Linked DNA regions of Homo sapiens. The protein of the gene in region 1 interacts with the protein of each later gene in a pairwise test. Each region holds a gene or a part of one and is shown in the gene's direction. Other genes may lie near its edges.

The links. The genes of interacting proteins can lie anywhere in the genome.
Region 2: the proteins of GSK3A (region 1) and ZDHHC17 interact in binary tests that used the Homo sapiens proteins (3 or more experiments, as listed by UniProt).

Annotation. Positions count from the first base shown.
Region 1 is NC_000019.10:42,229,685-42,232,756, reverse strand, and holds the end of GSK3A (glycogen synthase kinase-3 alpha), read left to right. Parts: intron 1-74; coding exon 75-261; intron 262-607; coding exon 608-700; intron 701-1,889; coding exon 1,890-1,963; 3' UTR 1,964-2,567; downstream 2,568-3,072. UniProt on the Homo sapiens protein: Constitutively active protein kinase that acts as a negative regulator in the hormonal control of glucose homeostasis, Wnt signaling and regulation of transcription factors and microtubules, by phosphorylating and inactivating glycogen synthase (GYS1 or GYS2), CTNNB1/beta-catenin, APC and AXIN1.
Region 2 is NC_000012.12:76,851,115-76,854,355, forward strand, and holds the end of ZDHHC17 (palmitoyltransferase ZDHHC17), read left to right. Parts: 3' UTR 1-2,582; downstream 2,583-3,241. UniProt on the Homo sapiens protein: Palmitoyltransferase that catalyzes the addition of palmitate onto various protein substrates and is involved in a variety of cellular processes.

The DNA of each region.
Region 1 (3,072 bases):
GTGGCAGTGAGATAACAGGAGTATGCCAGTGTCCAGGGCATCTCACCCTCATGAGCCCTGCACCCATCCCTCAGGTGTTCAAATCTCGAACGCCGCCAGAGGCCATCGCGCTCTGCTCTAGCCTGCTGGAGTACACCCCATCCTCAAGGCTCTCCCCACTAGAGGCCTGTGCGCACAGCTTCTTTGATGAACTGCGATGTCTGGGAACCCAGCTGCCTAACAACCGCCCACTTCCCCCTCTCTTCAACTTCAGTGCTGGTGGTGAGGGCATAGCCTGGGATCTGGGGAGTGGGGCGGGGTAGGGGGGCAGCCAAAGATTGTGAGGAGCTTGGTGTTGAAGCAGGAGTGGGGAGCTAAGGGCAGGGTACAAGGCAGGCCTGGGGCTCAGGAAAGATGACTCCCAGATTCAGGGGGAATCGAACCTGCTTCAGTTGTGCTTTACTGTGATCTGCCTTGTGCTAAGCTTTTTCTGGTTTTTCATTGAGAGAGGTCTGTGGCTGAAGGTGTCCACAAACAACTGGCCTTCCCAATAGCTGGGTTCCCATTTGGTGCCCATCATAACCCTGCTGTAGTCTACCCTGACTAGCATGTCAATTCCTGTTTCTAGAACTCTCCATCCAACCGTCTCTCAACGCCATTCTCATCCCTCCTCACTTGAGGTCCCCAGCGGGCACTACCACCCTCACCCCGTCCTCACAAGGTAAGTGGGGACCATCTGCTGGGGGTTAAAGTATCTCTCAGCCTGGAGAGGGTGGGGCTGTTCGCTCAGTGACTGGGTTTCCTGAATGTATTTTTAAATCATCGACATTTTGATGGCATAGGAAACACATCTTACAACATGTGAATGACCACCTTTAGAGGGTATTCTTGCGTACAAATGTTTAAATGTGTTTAATGCCAATGGGAAAGCCAGAGAAATAACGTCTGGCCTGAACACAAACAAAAAGTTGAATTCGTTGCCCAAGTTTGTTTTTTTTTTTTTTGTGCAATAGAGTTTCACTCGCCACCCAGGCTGCAGTGCAGTGGCTCGATCTCGGCTCACTGCAATCTCCGCCTCCTGGGCTCAGGCAATTCTCCTGCCTCAGCCTCCGAGTAGCTGGGATTACAGACACACACCACTACGCCTGGCTAATTTTTGTATTTTTACTAGAGATGAGGTTTCACCATGTTGGCCAGACTGGTCTTGAACTTCAGGTGATTTTCCCGCTTGGCCTCCTAAAGTGTTGGGATTACAGGCGTGAACCGCTGTGCCTGGCCATGGTGTCCACGTTTAAAAATGGGGCTATTTTATGTAAAAATTCAGATTTCCTGTTTCTCTTGGGGAAGAAAATCAGATTGGGCAGCAATGGGCCCGCCCATCCTACTGACAGTAGACAGTGGGCGCCCTTTATATTTTTTAGACGGAGTCTTTTTCTGTCACCCAGGCTGGAGTGCAGTGGCACAATCCCGGCTCACTCCAACTTCTGCCTCCTGGGTTCAAGTGATTCTCCTGCCTCAGCCTCCTAAGTACCTGGGATTACACGCTCATACCACCATGCCTGGCTTATTTTTGTATTTTGAGTAGACATGGAGTTTCACCATGTTGGCCAGGCTGGTCTCGAACTGCTGACCTTGTGATCTGCCCACCTCAGCCTCCCAAAGTGCTGGGATTACAGGCGTGAGCCACTGTGCCCAGCCCAGCCACCGCCTTATATGGAGCCTGGCACTCTGGTGTGTCACTCAGTTACTATCGTGGCCCTTTAGCACTTGAGTTTGCAACCCTTCACCTAAAGTAACAGCTTGTAACTTTTAATGTAGCATCTATGACAAGAGAATTCCTACTTTTGGGTTGGGCGAAGGGGTGTCTGAAAGGCAAAGGCTAACTCTGCTCCTTCCCTGCCTCCCTCCAGCTTTAACTGAGACTCCGACCAGCTCAGACTGGCAGTCGACCGATGCCACACCTACCCTCACTAACTCCTCCTGAGGGCCCCACCAAGCACCCTTCCACTTCCATCTGGGAGCCCCAAGAGGGGCTGGGAAGGGGGGCCATAGCCCATCAAGCTCCTGCCCTGGCTGGGCCCCTAGACTAGAGGGCAGAGGTAAATGAGTCCCTGTCCCCACCTCCAGTCCCTCCCTCACCAGCCTCACCCCTGTGGTGGGCTTTTTAAGAGGATTTTAACTGGTTGTGGGGAGGGAAGAGAAGGACAGGGTGTTGGGGGGATGAGGACCTCCTACCCCCTTGGCCCCCTCCCCTCCCCCAGACCTCCACCTCCTCCAGACCCCCTCCCCTCCTGTGTCCCTTGTAAATAGAACCAGCCCAGCCCGTCTCCTCTTCCCTTCCCTGGCCCCCGGGTGTAAATAGATTGTTATAATTTTTTTCTTAAAGAAAACGTCGATTCGCACCGTCCAACCTGGCCCCGCCCCTCCTACAGCTGTAACTCCCCTCCTGTCCTCTGCCCCCAAGGTCTACTCCCTCCTCACCCCACCCTGGAGGGCCAGGGGAGTGGAGAGAGCTCCTGATGTCTTAGTTTCCACAGTAAGGTTTGCCTGTGTACAGACCTCCGTTCAATAAATTATTGGCATGAAAACCTGCTTTCTGTCCGGCTGCCTGTTTCCGCTGAGGTGGTGGGGGCTTCCGGTGGGGGGACTGTTCTGGGACGGGAGTGAGCTGCATCTCAGGCAGAGGGCTGTCCGAAGGCCCTGGCTCAGGTGCCCAACCTTCTCACACCGTGGCTTTCTCTGCACGTGTGGTGATGAGCTCCATCTGGGTTATCTGCTGTAGAGGCCTAGGAGGAGCCTGCTCCATGACCCAGCATAAATCATCTGCTTCTGCTTAGGGAGGGAGGGATTAACCTCCCAGTAACTGGTGAGCCAACTGGGGATCAGAGAGGGGAAGGCCATGGAGCTTAAGTGACAGAAGAGTCAGGACTTGAACAATGGGCCGTCTGTCTTAGCCCAAGCTGCCTGCTGCTCTAGGGTCTGGGGGGACATGAGATGATGAGGAGTCACTCAGGCCAAAACTTAGCCTGCTTGTAGACTCTTTGTTGGGTGGCCATGGCTGGAGATGGAACCCTAGAAGATTCCAAGCCTTCA
Region 2 (3,241 bases), on another chromosome or scaffold:
ACAGTCTTTTTTTCAACACTTTTATTAACAAAAGTAAACATGGACAGAACACACTGCCATTTCTGGGAAGAGTAAAGATGATAAAAAATAATTTTAATGGTTCTTAATGTGGAAATTCACAACATACTCAACTTTTGGGTTTTGTTCTCACAGTATTTTTCACAAAAAAAGGGTAAACTTATTCTATTGACAGACATGGTGTACTGATCAGAAATGTTCAGTTTTAACTAAAACTAAATTTATGTTATTTGGCTAAATGTTATGATGCAGTCTAGTACGAGTATTGCATCTAATTCCAGGAGCATTGTTTTAAGTTGATTGACTAGTTATTATGTACATTTCAGAATGTACACATAAATACTGTGATGAAAATCATGTGATTGGGATCTACTGTGATGTTGTCTTCAAAGGCAGGAGAAAATAATGTTCACAATAAAATGTGCTAACAATGTTTTGTTTCTATCAGCTGTTGCAATGCTGATATATTTCTAGTTCAGTGAAATAATTTGTAGTAACCTTACTCTGAGGTTTTACGGTCTGATAATGAAGCACTTGCATGAGTATAGTAAGTCATGTTTTTTTGTTCAAATTTAAAAGCCCTGCTAATTGCATGACACACCACATAGAATGTATACTAGCAGATACTATCCAGTGAAGCATAAATTAGAATTTAATTTGATGTTCAAAAACAGTTCCATTTTTAAGGGTTAAGGTGGTATTTTCAAGAAAAGGCAGAACAAATAATGCAAAATTCTCAGTAATAGTGATACATGGATATACTTCCTTTTAAATTCTCAGCTGCAAAATAATTGTAGACAAAATAATGGCATTTAACTAAAGATGGAGCATGATCTAAGTACATAGCACATGTGAATAAAAGAAAAGCTGACAGTATATTCTGGTTTCAATAAAATGACCTATCAGAAAGTAGAATTTCATCCCCAAGAGTATTTCAGTTTATCCAATATTGAGTAAGTTCTGAAACAGTTTTAGAAAAAATTTTCTTTTTGTTAAATGTGATGCACTGATCAATTTTTGTCACAGCATTTTCATACCTTCATGGTGGACTACTAGTCACTGCTTCCATAAATATTGTTTACAGGGTGAGATTTGGTTTATTCATCTTAAGTGCTGTAGCAAACTGTGGTTCGAGCAACCTGTGGGAAATCTGTGAGAGGGAATGGGGTGGGAGATGTGGGGGAATGGTGGTCAGACTGATGACAGATCCTAGACCAATGTAAAGAATGTGTATCTGTATATAAATAATTTATCAAATAGTTTTCTCTTTGTGTCTGTGTTAGTGTTTTTAAAGCTGCTCATTTCATTTTGTCCAACCAAAAAGAAAAGGGAGATAACTAATGAGCTTCTAGTGATGTTCAAAATTGCTGTTAATAGGCATTATACCCTGCAAGTTCACTGCATGTCTGATGCTTGGTAAAACTAGTCTTCCCTGTAAAATGCAGATTACAGGTATTAAAGCAATCTAGTGGTATACCCGCCCCTTGCCTTAGTAAGAGGAGCAGTGAAATGTATATAGTTGATGTTCAGTATTTCCAAGTACCATTTTTATATAGTAGCTTATTTGACCATAAGTCACACATCAAAAAAAGATTACCCTTAGTGTATGTGTTTTAATATTAGAAAATTGGCATATGTACTTTATTTTTGAAAAGGGAAGAGATGGGTGTGGGGTGGCAATAGCATTGTGCCATTTTGTCATAGAATGTAAAAATTGGTTAACTTTACAAATGTCAGCTAGTTTTGACTACTAATTGGGGGAAATTTTAGATAATTTTTAAATTCAAAGTTATTTATAAAATGCTAGAATTTGTTTTAATTTTTTGTATTTTGAGCCACTTCACATGAAGACTCAGTTGCATTTTTATCGAATACATTTTTATCAACAGTTAAAGACTATGGTGGTTTTTTCAGAGTTTGGCTAAGAATGTTGTTACCATCTTCTTTGTTTGTGGTACAATATTTTCAGTGCAAAAGAGATGTCATTCAGTTAAAAAGACAAACCTCTAGATGTGTAATTACATGGAAAATACTAGCAATGTGAATGCTTTTGTAGTAACCATCTTGTAGTACCTGTGAAATCTATAACTCAGAAATGGTCAGATGGTCAGGAGCCAGCTATGCAGCAGTATACCATCTGTTTAATTATTTTGTAGGTCCTGTGTGTGGAACCAACTATAAACCCAGTTCTAAAGTTGTGTATGATGGTGAACCTTTGGGAATAGTTCTTATCAACTTAATTGGATACTTTTAGCAAATAGGAACTTAATTCTCAGCACTGAACATGAATTACTTCCTTGGAGTTTTTTTTCATTCATATTTTTGTTGTTTCCAGGAATTTATTTGATATTAATGGGCGTAAAACAGCATCATTGTACTTAAGCTATGGATGTTTTTATTTTATATTTTCTTTATTTATAACTGTGCCAAGTATTATTTTGCTACTTACCGTGTTATTCTGTGGAAAGAAAAACCTGTAAAGTGTTTAATAAATTAGCCCTCCTTACATAAATTAAATGTCAAAATTTTGTAAAATATTAATCAGAATAAATACTGACTCTTAAGTGTGTGCTTATGATTTCACTCAATTTACTTCAGGAAATTGATGAAATGATAGTGGTACCTATGATATGAAAAGATTATACATTTATATCCTGGTTAACTAGGAGTCAAGTGGCATAAGACTGTAGGAATTTGGAAAAATAAAAGATGGTGTTAGTATTCTAAAAAAAAAAAAAAATTTCCAATCCTGTGTGTATGCATGTGTGTGTGTGTGTAATTTTTTTTTAAATAAAGATAATAAATTTTTTAAGAATTTTTGAATTCCATGTAGTTAATTAGGATCCTCAGGGACTGTATGAATCTCCAAGTTTTAAATATGTCTAAAGATACTAAAGAAAAATATTGCAAAATGTACTATATAAAGAAAAATACTGCAGAATGAAACCTACCAAACGTTGATCTCAGTTACTTGAGAAGATATGCGTGGCAGAGAGAACTTCTTTATTTGGGACTTTAAAAGGCAAAAATTATTAAGGAACTGTTTCCTGTTGTTCCAGTGGTTGTTAATGGTTTGAGAACCCAGTGGTATTAAACAGGAATATTTTCAAATTGGACTAATACTCTATCCATAATTTTAGTCTGGAGTTCAAGTAACAATATCTTGAACAACTGTATAAAGTAAAGCCGCTAGTTTTCATTCCACCCAAGTATTTTCCTCCTC